Linked DNA regions of Homo sapiens: region 1 is linked to region 2. Evidence: fine-mapped expression QTL. A gene starts in region 2. The other region holds a variant in brackets. All regions are shown on one strand. Distances are between the middles of the regions. Region 1 overlaps MNS1 (meiosis specific nuclear structural 1). Region 2 holds the start of TEX9 (testis expressed 9).

The links. PIP is the estimated chance that this variant, and not a neighbour inherited with it, causes the effect.
Region 1: its variant is the best candidate, but not a certain one, in a credible set for the expression of TEX9 in tibial artery (GTEx, PIP 0.70).

What each region holds. Positions count from the first base shown.
Region 1 is chr15:56,450,256-56,453,175 of GRCh38, forward strand. The region is part of intron 3 of MNS1 (meiosis specific nuclear structural 1); the gene reads right to left. It also overlaps a transcript of TEX9 not described here. Among named protein-coding and RNA genes, the nearest start is that of MNS1, 13 kb to the right of the region's middle. The variant T/TG (reference allele first, on the strand shown) is at 1,474.
Region 2 is chr15:56,364,188-56,367,107 of GRCh38, forward strand. It overlaps TEX9 (testis expressed 9), which reads left to right and starts at 1,239. Exons shown (of 12, transcript NM_001395496.1): 1 at 1,239-1,290; 2 at 1,392-1,483. The coding sequence starts at 1,264. RefSeq lists enhancers at 703-882, 893-942, 1,483-1,532.

The DNA of each region.
Region 1 (2,920 bases), 86 kb after region 2:
TGAAAATATATGTAACAAAAATTTGCCATCCTAACCATTTTTAAATGTACAACTCAGTGGTGTTAATTACATTCACAGTGTTCTGCAACCATCAACACTATTTCCAAAACTTTTTCATTCCCCCCAAAGAGAAATGCTGCACCTCTTAAACGATAACTCCCCATTCTTCCCTCTCCCTAACCCCTGGAATTCCTAATCTGCATTTTGTCTATTTGCCTATTCTAGATAGTTCACAAAAGTGGAATTATACAAGGAATTGTCCTTTTGTGTCTCGCTTACTTAACATAATGTTTTCAAGGTTCACTAATATTTTAGCATGTATCAGTGCTTCATTTTTTTTTTATAACTGAAGGATATTGTATAATGTATATATACTACACTTCATTTATCCACCCATCTGATGGACATTCAGGTTGTTTCAACATTTTGGTTATTGGAAATAATGCTGCACCAAAAGTTTGTATACAAGTATCCATTTAAGTCTCACTATTGAATTTTTTGTATATTTATGCCTAGGAGTGGAATTGCTGGCTCATATGGTAATCCTTTGTTTAACTTTTTCCCATAGCACCTGCATCATTTTACATTTCTACCAGCAATTTCTGAGGGTTCCAATTTTCCCACTTTCTTGGCAATACCTATTATTTTCCACTACTTTTATTAAAATTGCCTATTAGATGTGAAACAGTTTCTTCTTATGGTTTTGATTTGCATTTCCCTAATGACAAATAATGTTGAGTATATTTTCATGTACTTATCATTCACTCAACATCTTCTTTAGAGAAACGTCTAAGTTCTTTGTTCATTTTTGAACTGGGTTTTTAAAATTATTGAATTGTAAGAGTTCTTTATATATTTCAGATATTAAATCCTTATCAGAGATACAATTTGTTCTTCTGGCCTAAATGAGTTCTGAGTGAGGTAAAACAGATAAGTGCCTTGTGTTAGTTTTTCACGTAGTCCCAAGGTAGGTTAGAACAGATATACCCAACAATTTGTGAATAAGATCTGCTCTGCTCCTCCTGAACCAGGGACCAGGGTCCTGCATTGGGAACAAGGGCTACCTGCCTCTGAGCTAGGAGGGAATGAGGAAAGGGCAAGTGAAGATACCACAGAACTTTACTACCATTTTTAGGCTTTTTCTTGTTTCAGCATTTGCTTGATTGCAATAAACCTTTGAATGCTACCCAAATTTCTTATAAAATTGGTTCTGAGAGTTTCTGCTTGTTTTCTGATGTTTGTAGTCGGGGGATGGGCTGGGAGGAGAGACAGGAGCTGGGAGCTGCCTACTCTGCTATTTTGCTAATATCAGTCCAATCCTGCAACTTTTAGTATGTGGTATTTTCATTATTATTCAGTTAAAAATACTTTCTAATTTCAATTTTGATTATAGACAGTCTCTGATTAATGATGGTTTGACTTTACAATGGTGAGAAAACCATATGCATTCACAGTAGGTTCCTCAATTCATGA[T/TG]GGGATGCATCCCAATAAACCTGTCGTAAATTGAAAATGTAGTTTATTGGGACATGAACCCATCGTACATCAAGGAGCATCTGTACTTTTTGACCAAAGGGTAATGTGAAGCACATTTTTAAATACCTAAGCATATAAAGATTGCCTAGATTTTTTTTTATTACTTACGTCTAGTTTAATTCCACTATGGACAGAGAAAATACTATGTATAAATTGATTCCTCTGAAAATCTGTTGATATTTTTATTCTGATACAACATTTCATCAATTTTGGCAAATGGTTCAAATATGTTTACTATAACTACTAATATAATTGGGTTTCCATTTACAAGCTTATATCTTCTTTCTACTTGTCTTCCCTGTCCTATGTTCTCTCTTCTCTCCTGTTTGCTTCTGTGTTGGGGGTTCCCAAGACCACCATCAGGTTAGATGATTCACTAGGAGGATACAGGACTCAGCATATAGTTATACTCACGGCTATGACTTACTATAAAGAAACGAAACACAGCAAAATTGGCAAAGGAAAAAGGCACATGGGTGAAATTCAGAGAAAACTAGGTGCAAAAGGCCTCTACCTGTGGAAACACACAGGACACGCTTAATTCCCCGAGCAATGAGTTGTGACGTGTGAAATGCCTGGCAGACAACATTAGAGCTCATCAGAACTCAGTGCTCTGGGTTCTTATTGGGGGTGGTAACTTAGGCACCCTCTACTTAGAACGTACCAATATTCCAGACTCCCAGAAAGAAAATGGGTATTCAGTATAATCCATATTGTTTTGTTTTCTTTTTTTCTTTTTTTTTTTTTTGAGACAGAGTCTCTCTCTGTCGCCCAGGCTGGAGTGCAGTGGCGCGATCTTGGCTCACTGCAAGCTCCGCCTCCCAGGTTCAAGCGATTATCCTGCCTCAGCCTCCCAAGTAGCTGGGACTACAGGCGTGTGCCACCAGGCCCGGCTAATTTTTTGTATTTTTAGTAGAGACGCGGTTTCACCGTGTTAGCCAGGATGGTCTCGATCTCCTGACCCTGCGATCCACTCACCTCGGCCTCCCAAAGTGCTGGGATTACAGGCATGAGCCACCGCACCCGGCCTAATCCATATTGTTTTCACATTTTAGCCACAGTGAATCATCCTCAGCAGTTAAGGTGGTAAGAACCTTCTCAAAAGCCTAGTTTCCAGAAACCAGCCAAAGACCAAACTTGCAAGGAGGACTTTCTAAGATAGCCTCAAGCCTGCTATGTTAACTCTTTTTTACATGAGTTTTTTGGAATAATCAATTCCTATTATCGTATTTTATTCTCTATTAGTCAGTTATATTTTCTTTTCCAAATTTTTATTACAGATATTACAGCATGTTTCTTTGTTTCCAGGTGAATAAATTTATTCATTATTATTTGACAATGCAAGATTCTTGACTTTAACTTCATTTACTTCCTATCTCATTTTGTC
Region 2 (2,920 bases):
TTGTTGACCAGGTTGGAGCGCAATGGTGCAATCTCAGCTCACCGCAACCTCTGCCTCCCAGGTTCAAGCGATTCTCCTGCTTCAGCCTCCCCAGTAGCTGGGATTACAGGCATGAGCCACCACACCCGGCTAATTTTTTTTTTTTAGGAGTGGCGGGGTTTCTCCATATTGGTCAGGCTGGTCTTGAACTCCCAACCTCAGGTGATCCACCCGCCTTGGCCTCCCAAAGTGCTTGGATTACAGGCATGAGCCTCTGTGCCCAGCCTCTTTTTTCTTTTCTTTTTTTTTTTTTTTGCTACTGCTTTTGGTGTCATATCTAAGAATCCATCAAGGATTCTCAGAATTGTAATTCAAGGTCATAAAGATTTACACCAACAGTTTCTTTGAAGAGCTTTAGAGTTTTAGCTCCTAAGTTTAGGTCTTTGATACATTTTAATTTTTGTATATGGTGTGAAGTTAAGGGTCTAATTGCATTTGGATATCCAGTTGTCTCCCCATCTGTTGAAGACAATTATTTTCCCATTGAATGGTCTTGCACCCTTTCTAAAGATCAGATGACCATACATCATATCACGGTTTATTTTTGGATGTCAATTTTATTCCAAAACAATTGAAATTGTTAACCGCTTACGTGTTTCAGGCATGATCCTAAGCACGAATTCATTTGCTTCTCATAATAACTGTGAAGTGGGCACTATTCTCACTTCCATTTGACAAATGAAGTGGCCGATATACAGAGTGATTTGCCCAAGGCCATATAACTGGTAAGTGGCAGTGCCAGGATAATAATTTAGGTTGACTAACTTGAGAGCCTGAGTCTTAGCCATGCATGCTGTAAACAAAAATTAGAAATCAAAACTTCTGAATTCCACTGAAGAGCTCACTTTAAGCAAACGGGGTGAAGGTCGGATTAGCCACTAACGGTTTGAAAAGCACAACAGGGAGGGATTGCCTCACCAGCTTGCTTTCTATAGAGTAGCGGCAAAGGACCTGCCTGTTTTGGCTGAAACTCTTTCAACCCCCACAAGTTGAGAATTTGCACTAACTAAGTCGAATTTGCAGTTAGGAAGCCTTCCTGGGTTCCTGGGACAGCGCCGAGTGCTGCGAGCAAAGGCCGAGCCCGCTGCCAGAGGCTCGCGCCGCTCGCAGCACAGAACCTGAGAGTGGGAAGGCGTAGGCGCCCGGGCGGGAGGCAACCGGGATGTGGAAACTCTCGCGGGAAGATGCGTCGTTGCCTCGGTAACCGCGTCGCAGTCGCCGAAGATGGCGGGGCGAAGTCTGTGTCTCACGGTCAGTTCAACTCCAGGCTCCTGGGGAGCGTCTGGGTTCCGGCGACTAGGACGCCTAACTTCCTTTAACTTCGGGTCTGAAAGTCTGTGGCTCTTTTACAGAGAAGCAGCGTTCCAGGGACTCCGTTCCCGCCACCCGTTCAGCAACCCTCTACACCTGGACCCGACCTCCTCGCCTTGGAGGAAGAATATAAGTAAGAAATTCGGCGGTTGAACTTTTCCTTCTTTCTTTCATCTGAATGAGGCTGCTTACAAGTACTTTTTTCTGGAGACTGGCTGGATCTTCGGGACCACTCACTCTGCAGCATTCCCTTCTCGTCATCTCGTTCACCTGCCGTTTATCCTTTCTTTGTCTTTGATCTGAGTAGTTCGCCTGCGTATTAGAAGATATTTGAAGTGGGCGAAAATTTAGCCCAAGTAAGCATGTTGTTTAATTTAAAACGTAGCCCAAGTAAACAGCAAGATACTGTTGGAAGTTATTTGGGTAGCAGGAATTGCCACGAATAGTTAGTTCACTTGATAGTTTAGGTTATTTCGCTTAATATCAAGTTCATAGAGTTTACCTTGTGTAAATTTCCTTTAGGTTGGTTTCTAAATTGAAAGGATGCTTCCCACTGCAATCAGAATTACCATTCTCGTTCAAATATTCCTTTTCTTATCTGTTCTCAGTGTAATTACAACTATCCTGACAACGGTGCTTTCATTCTTGGCCCATTCTACTCCTCATCCCCAAGTTTTCACACAGCAGCCAGTGTAATCTTTTAATTTGATCTACCATGCCTTTGCTTAAAATTCTACAGTAGTTTCCTGTTGCATTTCAAAAGCTCTGATCGATGTGGCTCCTCCTGCCTCCTCTATTTGATCTTATTCCCTCTTCCCCTTTTCCCCCTAAAACTCTCCAGCTTCACTGGCCTTTTAGTTCCAAAAACTCTTCCAGGTTTTCTTTCTATCTCAGGAAAGAGACAGTCACACACGCCTTCAACCTGTAATGTGAGTGGCCTTCCTTGACCATGCTAAGTAGGCTCCCTTGTTGGTCTTTTTCATTGTCTCAGTGATTTTTCTTTCTAATTAGCATAATTTGTTACAATAAATTCATTTGTGAATTTCCTTTTTGTCTGTCTCCACTGGACTGTAAGTTCCAAGGGCAGAGGCGATGTCTGTTTTATTTGCCATCATACATACCCTTATAAAAAAGTGCCTTTTAACAACTCCCTTCCGTTTTAATATAAAATAACTAGATTAAAATTTGGAAATAGTTGGCAGTTTGTATCAGAGGGTTAAACTAGAGTTATCGTATGATCTACATATGATCTATAAGCATATTTGAAATTAAAACTGAAAGGTACTGTGTTTAGGTGAACTATACACAGACCAATTTACCACAGCAAGTAGGAAGATAATCATATCTTCTTCTCTCTGATGAAATGGGCCGATTATCCCAGTTCAAAAGTGTACTTAAGCAAATTAATCTGTTTTCTATATATAGTTCTTTATCAGCTATGCCTCAATCAAAACGGTTATTTTCATTATCATTAACCATATAGTATTAAATACCTGGATTAGGTTTATTTGTTCAGTTATTTGAGAGTGTATTTTGCACCTGGTTCTGGTGCATCCTTAGGGATACAGTC